2 separate regions of the Homo sapiens genome follow, and region 2 is linked to region 1. The links come from fine-mapping of genetic effects on gene expression. Tissue or cell type: whole blood. Region 1 holds a variant in brackets; the other region holds the start of a gene. All regions are shown on one strand. Distances are between the middles of the regions.

The links. PIP is the estimated chance that this variant, and not a neighbour inherited with it, causes the effect.
Region 2: it holds the start of SAMD4A, and the variant in region 1 is fine-mapped to the expression of SAMD4A in whole blood (TOPMed, PIP above 0.99).

What each region holds. Positions count from the first base shown.
Region 1 is chr14:54,780,547-54,788,651 of GRCh38, forward strand. SAMD4A (sterile alpha motif domain containing 4A) reads left to right here. Exons shown (of 13, transcript NM_015589.6): 12 at 3,991-4,074. Among named protein-coding and RNA genes, the nearest start is that of MIR4308, 94 kb to the right of the region's middle. The variant A/G (reference allele first, on the strand shown) is at 3,678.
Region 2 is chr14:54,563,499-54,571,603 of GRCh38, forward strand. SAMD4A (sterile alpha motif domain containing 4A) reads left to right here and starts at 3,630. Exons shown (of 13, transcript NM_015589.6): 1 at 3,630-3,840; 2 at 3,998-4,614. The coding sequence starts at 4,419. RefSeq lists silencers at 1,652-1,701, 1,712-1,781, 2,412-2,541, 3,102-3,151, 3,272-3,461 and 2 more.

The sequences.
Region 1 (8,105 bases):
CTCCATGTCTTCTAATAAATCAAGGCAGACATCCCTGTTCAGGACTGGCAGACAATGGGTAGGGAGATTGATAAATAAATCAATTCTGTCATAGCCAAGAACCCAGCTGGGCCCACAGCCTCCTGCCTCTGAGCATCAACTTGGGGCAAGATGGTACAATATCATCTTATACCATGTTGTACCCATCACTTTTTGTGAAAGCGTTGGTCCCAGAGGACCTCCACAGGCACTGACCTTCTGCAGGCTTAGGAATGTTAGGAGGCCACCAGAGAAAAGGTGCGTTCCCATGGTCAACTCAGGGATGCTATTCATTACTCCTGCCACCCTCCATGGCCATCTCTGCCATCCTCAGCTTGCCTGCTGCCCCACCCCTCTGTTTCCCTGCCTGTGCCGTTTCTTTCCCTTTTGTTACCATCCTCCCCCTTTCTTCTTAGTTCTCTTGTCTTCCTTTCTTCTTTACTCATCTCATCACAGCAGACCAGGTCCCACTGCTCTGTCCCTTTTTGTCTTCCCTGCTTTCTCTCCTCCTAGCAACCCTGCTGCTCAGTGAACCAGACTCCACACCTTTCTAGTTATCCAACAGAGTTGCCTCCGCTGTCATTGGCAAAACGGGATTCTATAGATTTTTCCTGGAATGCCCCAGCCTGTTTCTTATTCTAAAGTCCTAAAGAAATTGGCTCCTTACCCTCAGTGCCTTGGAGAAAAAGCACTGCAGAATTGCACCGTGGGTGCCACACATGTGAGACCCAGCAGGGATGGACGGTTACTGCCAAGGACAAGCCCTTTGGGCTCCTCAGGTGGATGCTGCAGCAGCACCTCATTAGGGATGGGTAGCATTCTCTTCCGGAATCTTCTTGACCCTGGGCCTGAGCACAGGACTACTCCATACGTGTGGGACTTCTGAAAAGATACAATTAATGTCTCAAGTCAGCCTAGACCTTGGGGATTCCAAAACTAGCGATCCTTACTGAATACTGGAATACTGGTCCTCAGAGATGCCATCTGAGCTGAAGAAACATGCCTCCTTTGGGAAAGAGCAGAGGAGGCTCAGTTAAAGAGGGGTCTTTCCTTTTGCCTTCCTGAAGACTCACATCTCCATCTGCCTGGTCTGTGGCCACGAGGGGCAGGGGCCTGGGATAAATGAGATGGGCCCTCAGGGTTAACAGGAGCCACAGCAAGGGTTGGCCTGGTGGTTTATGTTGGTCTGTGGGGCAAGAGCTGCCCGAATGCCCCTCTGGGGCACCTAGCCCCATACAGCTGAGGGTTCCTAGCCTGAGATGGAAGCTGTTTTCCACCCAACTGGTCTTTCTGTCTTATACGTGCGGCGAGATGGCATGGATCTGTTTTTATCAAATACACAATTAAAAAGTCACACTATTAGGAAACTCTGCAGTGTGAACATATGGGCTTCTCCCAAGACTTAGAATTTTTCAGAGCCACTCGGAGTGTTGGGGGTCACGGCTCCCCAGTGCATGGAAGCAAAGAGCTGGGGAGAAGAAGCGAACACCCCCACTTCCCACCTAAAAGAGCAGCCACGAAGGTTTGGGGATTCTGGAGCGGAGAGCCCTGCGTTTCTCAGCCCCCTTTTTGGAACACGCAATCCCAGGCTTGGAAAATGGCATTTTGCTGCGTGTTGGCAAGAAATCCTGCAGCTGAAACACTTCTCTCCAAATGTCGAGCATCTTTATTTATCCAAATCTCTCCACAGTGTTTGTTTAAAGGGGAGCGCTGGAGAGTAAACTAAATCTTACAATGAGCATATGGATGGCTATAATTGCTGAGGTTTGTTTTTTTTTTTCATATTTGCTAACTCGCTATATATAAAATTGTGTTTCTATTTTATAGATTTCACACCCTGAAGACTGCTAATTTTTGCATGCATATGATTTTCACATGAATGGATGAAAATACTAAAATCTCTTCCCCCTGGAATTGTCTAATTGCCCCGACCCTACTCTAACAGCAACTAGTGGGTGGGGGCGGTGGAGACTCCTGCCATTCTCTGTGGCACCCCACTTCCCTGGAAGCTCAGTCGGCCTCCGTCTGCTCACGTATTGGCACGGTTGTCTTCCAAACCCATCGATGCCGGAACATGGGTCAGGAAGAACACAGTCAGCTCTCTGGTGCTTTCCATAGCGTTCCTTTTTGCCAGGCTTCTGAGATTTTTAAATAACGGAAGCAACATCTGCCTCTGAATTAGCTGACAATGGGAAACACACATTGCAGAGATTATCTTAATGTATAGCAAATCAAGGAAAACAAAACTTTGACTTAACCATTGGTTTCAGCTTCCTATCCCACCAAGCCACCAACTTCGTTTCACTTCTCTTTCTTCTCTCTCTGGCCCCATGTGCTCCCTTGGTGGAGACATGAAGGAGCAGGCAAGTGGCCTGCAGGGGGACCCCGGGATGCTTTGCCCACTTGACAGGTAGAGGAGCTAAGGCCCTCAGCATGGAACAGGTTCCCAGGCTCACAGAGGAAGGTGGTGGCAACACGGAGACTTCTCGGTCACCTGGAACACACCCCGCTGTGGACACCCCCTCTGGGACTTTTTTTCTGCCTCTCCCCTTAGGATTTTGCAATTCTTTTCAAACCAGTGTCACAAAACTTTAAAAAAAAAAAAAAAAACAAAAAGGATTTCACAACTCTTAGCTGTCAGAGTTTCCTTCTACTTCTTCTACTTTCTCTTTTTCTTCGCTCAGTAGACATGTATGAGGCAGAAGGCCAGGGCTGGGCGCTGTGGGAGATTCAGAGAGATAGGGAAGCATCATCACTGTCTACAAGGCACTTCCAGGTAGTTGAGGACATTTAAAGTCGCCACTGGATGAGGCCTGCGGAGGTGCTGACAGTGAGGGCTCCAGCAGGTGAGAGGAGGTGGCTCCCAGACACTGCCTCCTGCTCACAAGAGGCGACATTGGAACCTGGGGAGATAGAGGGGTTCCAGGTGGTAGAGGGGAGATTGTGGTGAGAATGTGCACAGCACTGTCGGTCAGTGGGAGCCGAGCCCCTACTGCCTGCAGAGTGGGTGTCTCAGCCCTTGATTCTAGAGGCCCTCGAGGCTGAGTGTGTTGACAGTTACCTGCAGTTGCTGTGGCAGGTGGCTGAGCCCCGGCTCTGGAGTCAGAGAGGGTCTTGTCCCAGCTTTGTGTTAGTTGGCTAACTTTGATGAGTGACTTCACCTCTCTGAACCCCACTTGGGCTTGTTGGGCAGATTAAGGAGCCCGCACACCTAAAGCCCCCCACGTGGTCTCACACTAAGAGGTGCGTGCTGGGCCCTGGCTTTCCTCTCCCACTCTAGATGCATGCCAGGCCCTGCTCTAGGCACAGGGGGCAGAGCCATGTTCTGCTCCAATGAGGTGAGCACTCAGCGGGGTCAGGGGAGGGGGACAGTAGAAAGTGAATACAAATATCAAATATGACAGCTGTGGGCGAAGGCTATGAAGAAAAATAAAGCAGGGGAAAGGGATAGTGTGGGGGCATGGCTCATACAAGGAACAAAGTCCTTTCCAAGGAGATGATAGAGCCAGAAATGTGAAGGCAGGGAGAGCCATGGAAACCACCCCAGGGAACAGCGGTGCAAAGGCCGTGAGGTAGGAGGGGGCCTGGGGCAGAGCAGAGGAAGGAGAGAGCTGTATGAGGGTACAGAGATAACAAGGGCCTGGATCATGCGGGGCCTT[A/G]TGGGCCAGGGCAGGAGGTTGGCTGTTACTTTGATGGGAGGCCGCTGGAGGGTTCTGAGCAGAGGAGGCACAGACTGTGACATGACCAGCTATTTTTAGTCTCCGTTTTGTTCCAGGTTCCCAAGTTCACAGTGGACTGTGTTTAACAGACCTTAGAGGTTGGTTGAGCCTGAGTGGAGCCCCTTCCATGCCAGCGCTGACAGTCCCCAAGTCCTCCCAGGGAGGTACACCAGACCTTTCTCCTGAAGGTGGAACCAGGTGGCACCCTGCTTATCTCCTCCTTGTCACCAACATAACCCTTTATCGCCTGCAGAATTCCAGCTTCCCGTGACCGAACCTGACATCAACAACAGGCTGGAGTCGTTGTGCCTCAGTATGACCGAACACGCCCTGGGAGGTGAGTGTGTTCTTCCTGCATGTCCCCATGTCCCTGTTACCGTGTGCCTGGGAGAACTGGCCATCTGCTGTCTATACCGTGGCAGGAGCTCAGGAGAATTGGGGGAGGACAAGGAGGGGTAGGCAGGGGACAGGGAGAAAGAGTGGCCTTAGGGTACTGTTGGACCATTTTCCAGCGGCACCATGCCAAGTGGCCAGTGCCCTGTTTCTCCTCCTTTTCTGGGAGGTGAGTCAGGGACCTGGCAATCAAAGCTGTCCCTCTGTCCCCAGAAGCTCCACCTCCCAGTGCACATGGGAATCACACCACAGCAGTTGTCCCAGCCAAGTGCCAGGCCTGGAGGAGTCAGGGACATGAGACATGGCTTTTAGTAGGAATATCCCGCACAACACTGGATGCTTCCCTTCTCTGCACTAGATCCCCCAGCCTGGTCCAAGCATAGCCCAGCTTGCCTTAGAAATATAATTTTTGAAAAACAGAAAACCCAGCTTGTTTGTGTATCTCCCAGTTGCAAACAACTTTCTTGACACCTGGAGCCCAAAGCAGGCTGAGGTGTCCTTTCCTGTGTGACAGGGACAGGTTGAGTTAGAGGCGCCTGCACGTCCACTGCCCAAGCCCAGAATGGGGGCTGTGCTGTGCAGGGCTGTGGCCCCACAAGCAGCTCACAGAAGCATCTGTGCTCCCCCGTGTGTTTGGCTGGAAGCCATGCTTGGTCACAGCAGCCCTGGGAGGCCTTCAGCTCCCTCCTGGTACTAAGCGGGCACCTTTCTCTGGGCCTGGATATTTATGATGCTTGGCAGGCAGAGGAGAGAAGAGATGTCTGCCATTTCCTGCCAGCTTCCTGGGAGGCTCTGTGCCACAGAGACACAGAGAGGCCTCCTGTGAGCCTTTCCAATAGCCCTATCCAGTCTACACTTGCTCTTAGCCAAAAGGCCGAGAAGCGATAGCCCTATCCAGTCTAGACACACTTACCCACCCAGAGAAGGGCTGTCTGCACACCTAGAGCCAAGACGTGCGCCACCTGGCAGTGGTGGGGAAAAGACTGCCATCCTCTGCTGCTTCAGAGAGCCTTGTCCTCCAGACCTAAGGTTGTTAGATTTTTAGTCTCTGCAAACACAATCTTATCCTGAAACCAAATATGAAATAGATCAGTGCTCTGCATGGAGCAGAGTGGTGGGCCCGGGACCACACCCACCTGACCTTAGCATCAGGGGGAGCTGAAAGCCTTCCAAGGGCATCACAGAGCTTCACCAAACAGATGGTGGGAAGACACAGCCCCTTCTGTGACTTCCCCCAGAGCTCTATAAAGAGCCTCATTTGCGAGCCACTGCTCTCTGCCTTGGCCATTCAGATCTCAGGAACATCACTGGGCCATCCCTGGTACCTCTGGCAGGAGGTGCTGCCAGCTCATCTTTACCTCATAGAGGAGACTGGGTCAGCAGCCCCCTAATGAGAAATGGGAGACAACTCAAATGTCCACCAAAGGATGAACATGGCTCAAAAAAATGTGGTGTATCCAAACAGTGAAAGAGCATTCAGCCTTTAAAAAGCAAAGAAGTACCAACCTATGCGATGCAGTGGATGAATCTTAACATTATGCTGAGTGAAACAAGCCAGGCATAAAGGACCACAGAGCGTATGATTCCATTTATGTGAAATGTCCAGGATAGACTAATCTACTGGGACAGAAAGTAGATGAGTGGTTGCCAGTGGCTGAAGGGAGGAGGATGCAAATATTCTGGAATTAGATAGTGGTGAGGGTTGCACAGCTTTGCAAATATACTAAAAACCACTGAATTGTATACTTTCAAAGGGTGCAATTTATGATATGCAAATATTTCAATTAAAAGTAGTAATGACAGTCTCCCTGGGGCCAGAGTTAGGATAGCAGCTGGTGAGTGAGTCCCCTGAGCTGGCACCTGCCAGAGCTCTGACATGGGGAGGGAAGCCCCTGTGCTCCCCTGCTCGACAGTGGCCAGCTGGGTGGGGGACTGACTCAGTCTTTCACTGCTTTTGACCAAAGAAAAAGGAGAACTGACCTTTTCCCCCAGGGCTTGATACATCTCAGACAATTGGCATTTTGGAGGCTCATATCAAACTGCTAAGTACCAACATTATCATCATTAGCAGCAAGAATACCAAATGCTCTTTATTAAAGGAAGGTTTTCATTGAAAAGACTTCGTTTTTTTCAGTCTGTTCTGTTTTTACAGAAAACCTCTCTGAACCGATGGGTTTTTTGCTAATGTTTTCATCTTGTTAATCTCCTAAGCTTTTTTAGTGCTGTGTTTTTTCCCAATGATCTCCTCTGGTGGGAAGCCTCGTAAGCAGTTTCCTGAGCAGAGAATGCAAATTAAGTTCAGGGTGGCCTAGTTGGGCACAGTGGCAGTGTGCCCTCCCAATATGACAGAGCTTCTCTGCTGGCCAACCCCTTCCAGGTGCCAGGAAAGATGGCCTTGCTGGAGACAGTATGCTAATGAGTCAAGTCCTTTTATGGGAAGAGGAACGGGCAGGGAGAGGAAAGCACAGTGAAAGAGGTTCCAATGCTTGCAACTCAGGAATGGAGAAAGAGAGGCTCACATCTGTTGGCCTCTAGGATTGGTGATCTGACACCACTGACACACTCAGGGACCATTGCTTCCTTTCTTTAAAATCTCCCCTAAAATCATACAGAACTTATATACAAGTGCACTGGGTCTGTTTGGACTATTACTTACAACAGCATGTGAACCTACAGTTATCTCAAAAGTTTCAACTGAGGAAGTGCTTCTCCTCCAAGGCCCCACTGGCAAGAGTTGCCAGCCTGGCTCCACCCACAAGGAAGCCAGGAACCAACCCCCTGTGGTGGCCTCAGCACGCCTGTCACTTGGGTCCTCCAGCTTTCCCTGGAACACACTGCCACTCCCTTCTCACACCCAAGTTCTGCCAAGCAAATAGAGATGCTGCATCTGGTGGACCAGTTCTGTAATATTGGGGCTTGGACTGGGACATCAGCAAAGCCAGGGAGGCACCCCACAGCCCTGTCTCACCCACATTTAGTGGTCACTGAACGCAGTTATTCCTACCGCCTGTGATGGCTAATCCATGCCTCTCTCTGCTCACTGGAAAAAATCCTTGTCAGTTCTGGCACAGACTGTTATAGGGGCCTCTTAACTGGTCCACCTGCCACCAGCCTTATCCTTCCTCAGGTTATCTGATGCAGCTGCCAGAGAAACCATTCTAAAATTAAATCTCATTACTCTACTGCTTATAATTCCCCAACTACCTACCTCTAAGCTCTTGTTCATGGTATGCAAGACCCTATGGTCTGCTCCTGGGGACCGTTCTAGAACCCACGTGTAAGCAGACAGCCAAAAAGGGGCCGGGCAGGCCTCACACCTCTGATGGTCATATCCCCTGCCTTCTCTGTAGCCTGGGTCATCCACTTCTCCAAAACGTAGATGTGGCAGATTCTGGGCGGCCTCAGCACTCTCCCACCTCCCCAAGACTGTTCAGTTCTAAGTGCCCACAACACCTACCTCAGACATCTCTGCCTTTGATCAGATTCTCGAGACAGAGAATCTGGATTTGTTTGGGTCAGATGTGTCCATCCCTCTGGTCTGCTCAGCTGTGGACAGGGTCACAGCCACCTTGTCCCCAGTGTCTCATCAGGGACGTGGGTTGAGAAGGAGAGGCTGCCAAAGAAAGGGATGTGAGCTAGACAGGTCCACCTGCGTGTCCGTTGCAGCCCCTGCCTGGCTCTTCCACCCCATCTCCTCTACTGCATTCCCCATCCTTCATCCTAAACCTCCAACGCACCCTCAGCTCCACCACCGGATGACCTATCATCCCACCTATGCATGCACCGCACACCATCCCCACCCTCCTCCTCCTGCCAGCACCAGCTACAAAAGTCACTTTGTATCTCTCTGAAACTGTCCTTGACTTCCCAGGCCAACCGGGCAGCCATCATTCCTTCCTCCACGATCCTGCTCTCTTGGTACCTACTCCATTACAGCAGTGATCACATATAGCATTATTGTCTGTCTACATGTCT
Region 2 (8,105 bases), 220 kb before region 1:
TGATCAAAAGTATTATTCACTCAGAAAACAATTTCTTCCCTTCCCAGATTCTAAGGAGGAGAAAAGCAAAATAATGTTGGGAATGTTAATTCATGATAATCTGATCTGTGTTTTATTCATATAAAGTATCTCTTGGTTAGTACCCCATCGTGTATTCAGTGCCTGTACTTGGTACTCAGAATACTCAGGGTACTTATTGCCTAACCCAGTGCCTGGCACAAGGTGACACAATAAGTATTTTTCAAATGAATAAATAGGAATACAGTGAACATAGACATAGTAATATCTCTTCTAATGAAAGGATATTTTCATTCATTTTTCAAGTGATGTGACTATATAGTAAGTGTTAGGCACTTCTTATTTATCAATAATACTGGGTCCAGGTTGACATAGGAAAAATCCACACTTAATACAATACCTTATATTTAATGAATGTATTTTTTTTTTCCTTTAGAGTGATGACTTCACTCTGGGGAAGAGTGAGGCCACATCCCTGGGTTTTATTTATACTCCCTTTCCTTTGCCCAGAGGAAAGGAATTGTTAACACACAAATACAAGAGTACTGACAGCTCATGTCATGCTCAACTTTATATGTCTTAGAGTGTCCTGAACAGTAAGAATTCAAAAATGAGATAAATCAATGTCTTTTCCTAGGTCAAAGGCTGGTGTAAGAACTACACTTTTCCAGTAGATGGCAGTATTTTCATTCACCAGCTTAAGTTTTGTTTTTTTTTTTTGTTGTTTTGTTTTTAGTTTTACTATACCTTTAGTAAGCTGCAGGTGAAAATACATGTTAATGAAATTTCTGGTTTTTTCACTTTCTTTTAAAAAAAATTCACTCTTGGGAGCTTCCAAAAGCCCTAGAACGACATCTGCTTTGCCTACAATTTATAGCAAGGTATATACCGAAGTAGACCATACTCTCTAATCCTCCCTATTTCCTGATATAAGTTATTACTAAGAATTAGCTAATTCATAGTAATCTCTTGGAGAAAATCTATCAAGCCTTTCTGCCTCTACAGTAACAAAACAAAACAAAAATAAAACACTGACTTCAGGTTTCCTGTTTTCTAAATAGGGCAAAATATTCATTAAATTAAGCGGATACCTCACCTGTCTGGTTAATAATTAACTTTTAAAAAATCCACATTTTTGCAGCTCGACCTCGACAAGACCTTTCAAAAACCCTAACAGATGGTTAGGTGCTATCACGTGTCTGAAACGAACTATACGCTGCAGAAACTAAATTTGAGGAGGAAGGGAAGAAAGCATTTAAATTCCAGGGACATATGCCGGAGTTGGAAAACAAAAGTGTTAATTAGTGGAATAATATCTCAGATACTTTCTCTTCAAAACAGTGGATTAGCAGGAGTAGGAAAGGCTGGGTCTGAAACACGCGTTTCACTGCCTTCTCAGAATTACTCCCGTATAAACAAAGCCTCAAGTTGCTGGAGGGAGCAGTGTTTCCTCTGAAATCACGGAGATAGCCCAGATTTAGTCATCCAGTCCTTCTTGCGAATATTCAACCCATATCAGGAGGTACAGAGGTTTTTAGGGTTTAGGGTATTTTTAACCAAACCTTTACTTTCAAGACTAGCAGAGGCACTTTCGCAGCCCACCCTGCGCCACTCAGCCTCTGCGCTGCGCCCTCCTCGCCTCTCGCGCGGCAAGGACCTGAAGCCCCGGTGTGGCCGCGGCCCTGCGCACTCTCCAGATCCAGGTGAAGGTTGCGAGGCCTGGCGACGCCTAAGCGCTGACAGGTGGCCTCGCCCCGCCTCTTTGTCGCCCAGGGCGGCGCTCGCCTCCGCTCCAGGCCAGAAGCCGCAGCCCGCGCGCCAGGCACAGCTCCCCCGACCGGTCTCAGGAGTTCGGCCACCTCCCCGGGGAAGAGTGGGACTCAGCCAGGCGCCGGGCCGGCCTCTAGGAGCCTGCGCCAGAGCAAAGGGCATCCGGCACCCGACCCGGGCCAGGCCCTTGGACTAGGGCGGCACGGAACCTAGCGCCTGGGCAGGTCCAACCCTGCGCACTGCCCCTCAGCCTCGTGAACCCTTCGCCTCCACGACCCCCGGAACCCATCCCAGCAAGTGCGGCAGTGACCTCGGGTCTCACCGCCCGGGGGCCAAACACCTCGGCCACCCCGGGGCCCCAGAAGGGCCGAGGGTCAGCCGAGCGGACGAACCACATTCCCAAGGACAAGCAGCGGGTGGCAGCACCGCCCCCGCCCGAGCGCCCTCGGGTCCCTTTCTGCCGGGGCTCCAGTGGCTTGAGTGTCCCGACCCCTCCAGAACACGCAGGCGGCCGCAGGAAGAAATTCACCCGGACCCGTCCTCTTCCCCGAACTTCTTCGTTCCTCTCGGAGGTTCCTTCTACCCGACCCCTCTGCGCCACCAGCTCCTCCCACTCCGCTCCCCTCCCCTTTTTCTGGTCCCCACTTAGGAATCCGTCCCCCCGCCCTGCGCCGGGTCCGGGGTTCCTCCCCCCGGCTCCCCCCGCGTGCCGTCGCCGCCGCCCGGGTTCCTCTCCCCCCGCTCGGGCGCTCCCTGCCAAGCCCATGATGTAATGGTGTATGTTAATCAGTAGCATGTGGGGAGCTCCGGCTCGGGCGGCTCAGTCCTCCGCGAGCCGACACTGGAGGCAGCAGCAGCGGCGGCTGCAGCGGCCCCGACTCGAAGCACCGCACTCTCCCCGCGCCGCCCGCCCCGACGGCATGGCCCGCGGCCGGCGCTCCGGGCGCCCCCAACCCCGCTGAGAGCCGCCGCGGCCCCGGACCCGCGCAAGGGCCCCCGAGCCGCCGGGATGAGCCGCGCCGAGGTGAGCGCTCCCTCCCTACGGCCCTCGGCGGGGGACCCGCGGGTCACTGGGGGTCCCCTCCCCGGGGGCTTCCCCCTCCGCCCGAGAAGTTCTGGGAGCCGGAAGCAGCGTGTTGTTGGAAGCTAGCGGCTCCTTGAAGGCTGAGTCGCTGGGTTCTCCTCCCCGCCGGCGGCGGCCACGAGAACCGGGATGGGACTGGGGGAACCCCCGCAGCCGAACTTTCTTTGCTGTCGTTGGGGGGCGTGTGCCTGCGGCGCCGATCCGCATTCCCCGCGGGGCCGCCCCGCTGGCCGAAGGGAGCAGCGCTGCGGACCCCGGCCGTCCCCTCGCGGGGCGTGTGCCCAGCGCTGTGCCGCCCTCGGCCTGCGACGCGCGGGCGAGGCTCCGGGCCGGACAGACCAGCCCGTAGGCGGCGGCGGCAGGATGCCTGCCACACACGCGCGCACACACACACGCACACGCGCGCGCACAGTGACCGCTCCGGCCGGAGCAGGCCCAGGGAGACCTCCCGGGTGGGCTGGTGCGGCGCGGCGCGGGGGAGCCGGGGCTCTGGGTTGCGCCGCCGCCCGCTGGGCGCGGAGCTTTGGGTGGAGAGAGTTTATTTTTGTCTCGAGCTGCTGCCGCGGCTGCTCACGGCCTAAATCCAGAGGGGCGCCTGGCGGTGGAGATGCTGGCTGTTGCTGTAGATGGAGCTGCAGCCGCTCGGCTGCTTCTCTGGGAGGAGGAGGAGGAGTAAGAGGAGGAGGAAGGAACTCGGGCTGCCGCTGCCTCCGCCTCTGCTTTGCATTAGCTCCCACCCCCACCCCCGCGCCCCTTCGCAGCCGCATTGCAAGTTTTCTGCGCGGGGAAGATCTGTTGCTGGTGCTGGCGTTCTTAAGCACGGCGCCCGAGGCCACCCCAGGCGGGCCGTGAGGGGAGCACCAGCCGTTGGCAGCGGCAGCAACAGGAAGCCGCGGGGTCTCCTCCCGCACCTGGGAAGCAGGCTTCTCGCTGTTACCCGGTGGGGAATAGCCCATCTCCCACATCGGGTGCGGAGGGGGCGGAGGGGGCGGCTGGATTTCGGCGAACCCAACCTTCCGCGGGACGCCCCCTCCCCTGGCCCCAGCACCCTCTGATGCCCTCGTCCCCCCAGGGCGCGCTCCTCCGCTAGCCGAGGTCTCACTGCAGCTCTTTCTCTCCTTCCAGTGGTGATCGCCGCTCGGGAATGCGGGCGTGAAGGGTCCGAGTTGCCGCCCAGCGGGGAGGAGACCCCAGGACGCCGGAAATCACCATCCCAAAGCTGCAAGAAGGGGGGAGAAAGCATTCTTCATTCAGTTGTGTGCCTTGTGGGGGATTTTTAAAAAGTCGTTTTTTTTTTTAAAGAAACATTTCCGTGCTACTGTCTGTCATCGTCTCTGGGGAAATCAGCCAGAACCACCGGAACGTAACTGAAACCAGACAAGAGAGGCAGGAGCCCAGGCAGTACCTGCAGCGTCCGGGCACCAGAGCCACCTTGGAACAGGAACGCGTCTCCGGCCGCGGGGCTGCGGCTCCGCCAAACTTTGGGGCGGGCGGGGCGGGCTGGGGCGCCCAGGGGGCTCTGTAGACCGAGGGCGGCCCCCTAACCATGATGTTTCGCGACCAGGTCGGGGTGCTGGCGGGCTGGTTTAAGGGCTGGAACGAGTGCGAGCAGACTGTTGCGCTGCTGTCGCTGCTCAAGCGCGTGAGCCAGACCCAGGCCCGCTTCCTCCAGCTCTGCCTGGAGCACTCGCTGGCCGACTGCGCCGAGCTGCACGTCCTCGAACGCGAGGCCAACAGCCCCGGTAAGTGTGCGGCGGCCGCCGCCGCCGTCCCGCCTGCCCAACCCCCGCTCCTCCCTCCGCTTCTCTGCCTCGGGCCAGGCCGAGGCCAGTCCCTGCCAGCCGCGCCGGGACCTGGACGGCGTGGCCCCGAGGCCCTCGGAATCCACCCCCTCCGGGTGTCCCCCCACTACCGCCCCCCACCTACTTACCTCCGCCGGCCGCTTTGGGATTTTGCCCACTGTGAACTCCGTCAGCCCTTTCCGTGTGGTAGCTACGGTAGCATGAATGATTGATTTTTCTCTCATGCAGTTTCCTGGGAAATAAGTAAGTCAGGTCACGTAGAGTCTGGATTTTCTGGGTGTGTGTGTTTTTTCCTTCCTCCTCCTTCTTTTGGGCAACGTGGCTCGCTGGATTTCAGCAACACATGATAGATGCCCGGGACTGCCCTTCAGAAGCCAAGCTTGGATAAGGCTGTGTGAGGAGTACATGAAAATCCAATTTTATTATTCATTTTTCCCCACAGATATTCTGGTTTTAGAGCTTCGTCTTCAGAATAATATGCAGGTGACGCTAGAGACTAGTAAAATGACATTTGCAGCATATATATATATATATATATATATATATATATATATATATATATATATATAATGCGGTTAAGCTTACTGCTCGTGACATTATCCATATTGATACGGATCTTGTAGAAAAAAAGGGTCTTGGAGAAAGGACAGGCATGAAGTGGGTTACTTAATGCTTTTCGTTAGGAAACTTTACTGAATAGAACAGAATCGTTTCATATTACCCTGCTAGTATTTACAGACACCTCAACTAGTATGGAAAGTGAATATAGTCGAAAGGTCCAGCAGTTTCCTATTTGCTAGCGTGGGTGGTGACAGACTGAAATTATATCCTGGAGGGTAGGAGGAGGCTGGGGGATGGGGGGAAAGTCTGATGGTTGTGATTTTGGATAGGGGGAAATTCTTTAGTTCATGCTGCTGCAGGAGGGTGAACAGAGTCCCCAGTGTTTATGCAGAGAAAAGAATGCAGGGTCCTCTTCCAGCTGTTCCATGTTGGAGCTGCGAGCCTGCAAAGCTCAGCAGAGGTCTGGGCTGCCATTTGATGACAAGGTCCAGTCCAGGGCAGTGGGGCCTGGGAGACACTAAAGTGAGTGTGCCTTCAGAGCAGCAAGAAGCGAGCCGGCCTACTCATTCCTCCTCCCTAGTATGGTGTGCACGATGGTGAAAACACTAGAATGGGATGCTTCCATATATAGAATCATAGGGTGGAAGTGACCGCTGGAAATCTTCACAGTTCTTTTCCTGACCAGACAGGACTGCACCCGAAAGATCCTGCATGGCCAAGTATGGAGGGCCACATTGAGGGAGATTCCATTGAGCCCGAGCCTCCCAGCTCACACCAGGACTCACTGGGGTGGCGATGACAGGGCCCCCTTTGGTTGAGCTCCACGTTTATAAATAGCTGGAGGGCCAGCCTCCTTCACTGGGGTGTGGAAGCATAATTGGGTAACTGATGATCCACCCTCTTTGCTTCCTTCCTTAATTTCAGCGGGAAGCCTGGTTTACCTGCTCGGTTTTACTTTCTCAGGTTTGACAAACAAGGTTATATAAACTTTTGCATTTTATAGATTGCAGAGGATTTACGCAGAGTCATTTAGGTTGAATGCTTGATTTCAGTGCTGGTAGGGACTGTTCAAACTCATCTTTAGGTTATTCAAATGTTGGAGCAGCACTTTTTCCCTTTGAGTAATGGAGATGACTTTTCCCAATAGAGCAGCCACCAGGTTAGTAAGTAAAACAGTTAAATGTTAAAATAAGGTGGCCTAATTTTAAAAATCTCATAATTTAAAAAATTGAACTGTGAATTTTTTGAAGTCACTTGGCATTTTTTTTCCCTTAAGACATGTTTGGCCATACTTATTTGTATAAGATACCCACCTGTTCATGCTGCTAAATGATGTAGATATACAAAATATAGAACCATTGTGTAAGATAGGAACTGGTCTCCAGTTTCTGGATTAATCCTTCGCCTAGACGTTTTGCCTGCATGGAAATCTTTGCAGTTGTTTTGTTGTGTGGCCAGGACAGAAATTTCTTAGGAGGTCATGTGATGATTTGGTTTACTTTCGGAGTGTGGGGATCATAAAGAGCATCAGGAGTTGTCATAGCATACCTGAGTCTGTAGTGTGGCTCTCTGCATATCCGGAAACTAGCCAAGAACCAGGAAGGGGGCAAAAAGTCCACTTCGCAACCAGAGTAGATAGCATGAAAGTCCAAGAGAATATTTCAGGCCCTCTCTCAGAATGTACTTGCTCTTATTCTAGACACAATCCTAACATTTAAAAAATTTGACAAATAATCCGTAGTGTATTGGGGGTAACACATTTAGAATGGGGTGAGGGACTGCTGTAATCAGTAGTAAAAAGTGACCCCTGACAGCCTGACAACTTGGAAAGAGACAGAAAAACTGTAACTTTAGACAAGAATTGGGGCAGAAACTTTGAAGGCTTGGGAATATTAGGGTGGGAACCCTCAATTGACCTTGTAGGCACCACTCTATAATAACATAAACAAATAATTGCTATTTACTGTTGTTAACGGTGAACTATGGAAATAATACATTTTTAGATACACTCTTTAAGAAGAGAAGGAAATGTTCAATATACTTTGGAAATGTTTACACCCAGAATAATTAACCTCTGAGCTGTTTTGATGTGTAAGGCTCTTACCAATTCAGAAAACTAGGCTGTGCAGAATGACTCATTCATTGGATTGCTGAGATTTCCTGTACCGAAGTCATCTTGTATCACTTTATTTTGTAATCATCAATTTAAAAAACCCTCACATTTTGTCTAGTGTTTAGAGATTTTAAAACTTGGTAAATGGGAACCAAATTCATATATGGGACTCGATCTCAGTATAATAAAAAAAAATTACTAGTAATAGTATGAATATATCTCTCGTTTTATGCAGGACTGATTTTAAATAGTGAGATATCCTGCGCATTAAACATGATTTATTTGAGATTTGTGGGATGTAATTTGGTGCTTTCATTCTCTTAAATTTATTGAGAATCTAGTGATTCACTGGTTCATCCTTTGCCTCAGGCTCATGGTCATTGGAGATTCCAAGAAATGATTGAATCAGTCCCTATGGATTTATTTGTATGTGTTTTTCTTTTAACAGATATGGTCATGATCAGTTCTCTAGTACAGTCTTGTTCCCAGGATCCTTATAACCTTAGATAAGTCTCTTCAGCTACTGCTCCAGTTGAACATTGAGACTTCTGGCCAGTCTCAGTTCCAGGACTAGCAGGTCATTTGATACCTACAAGTAGCAAAAATGCAACCCACTGACTTTACCTGAAGTTTCCAAAAGAAAAATAGACTTTGTGGCATTGTTTATTTATGGCTTTTGTCACTTGGACTTGAAATATATTTTTCATAGAGATTTATAAGTTAATCCACAAAAACGTAACCCACAAAATATACACTA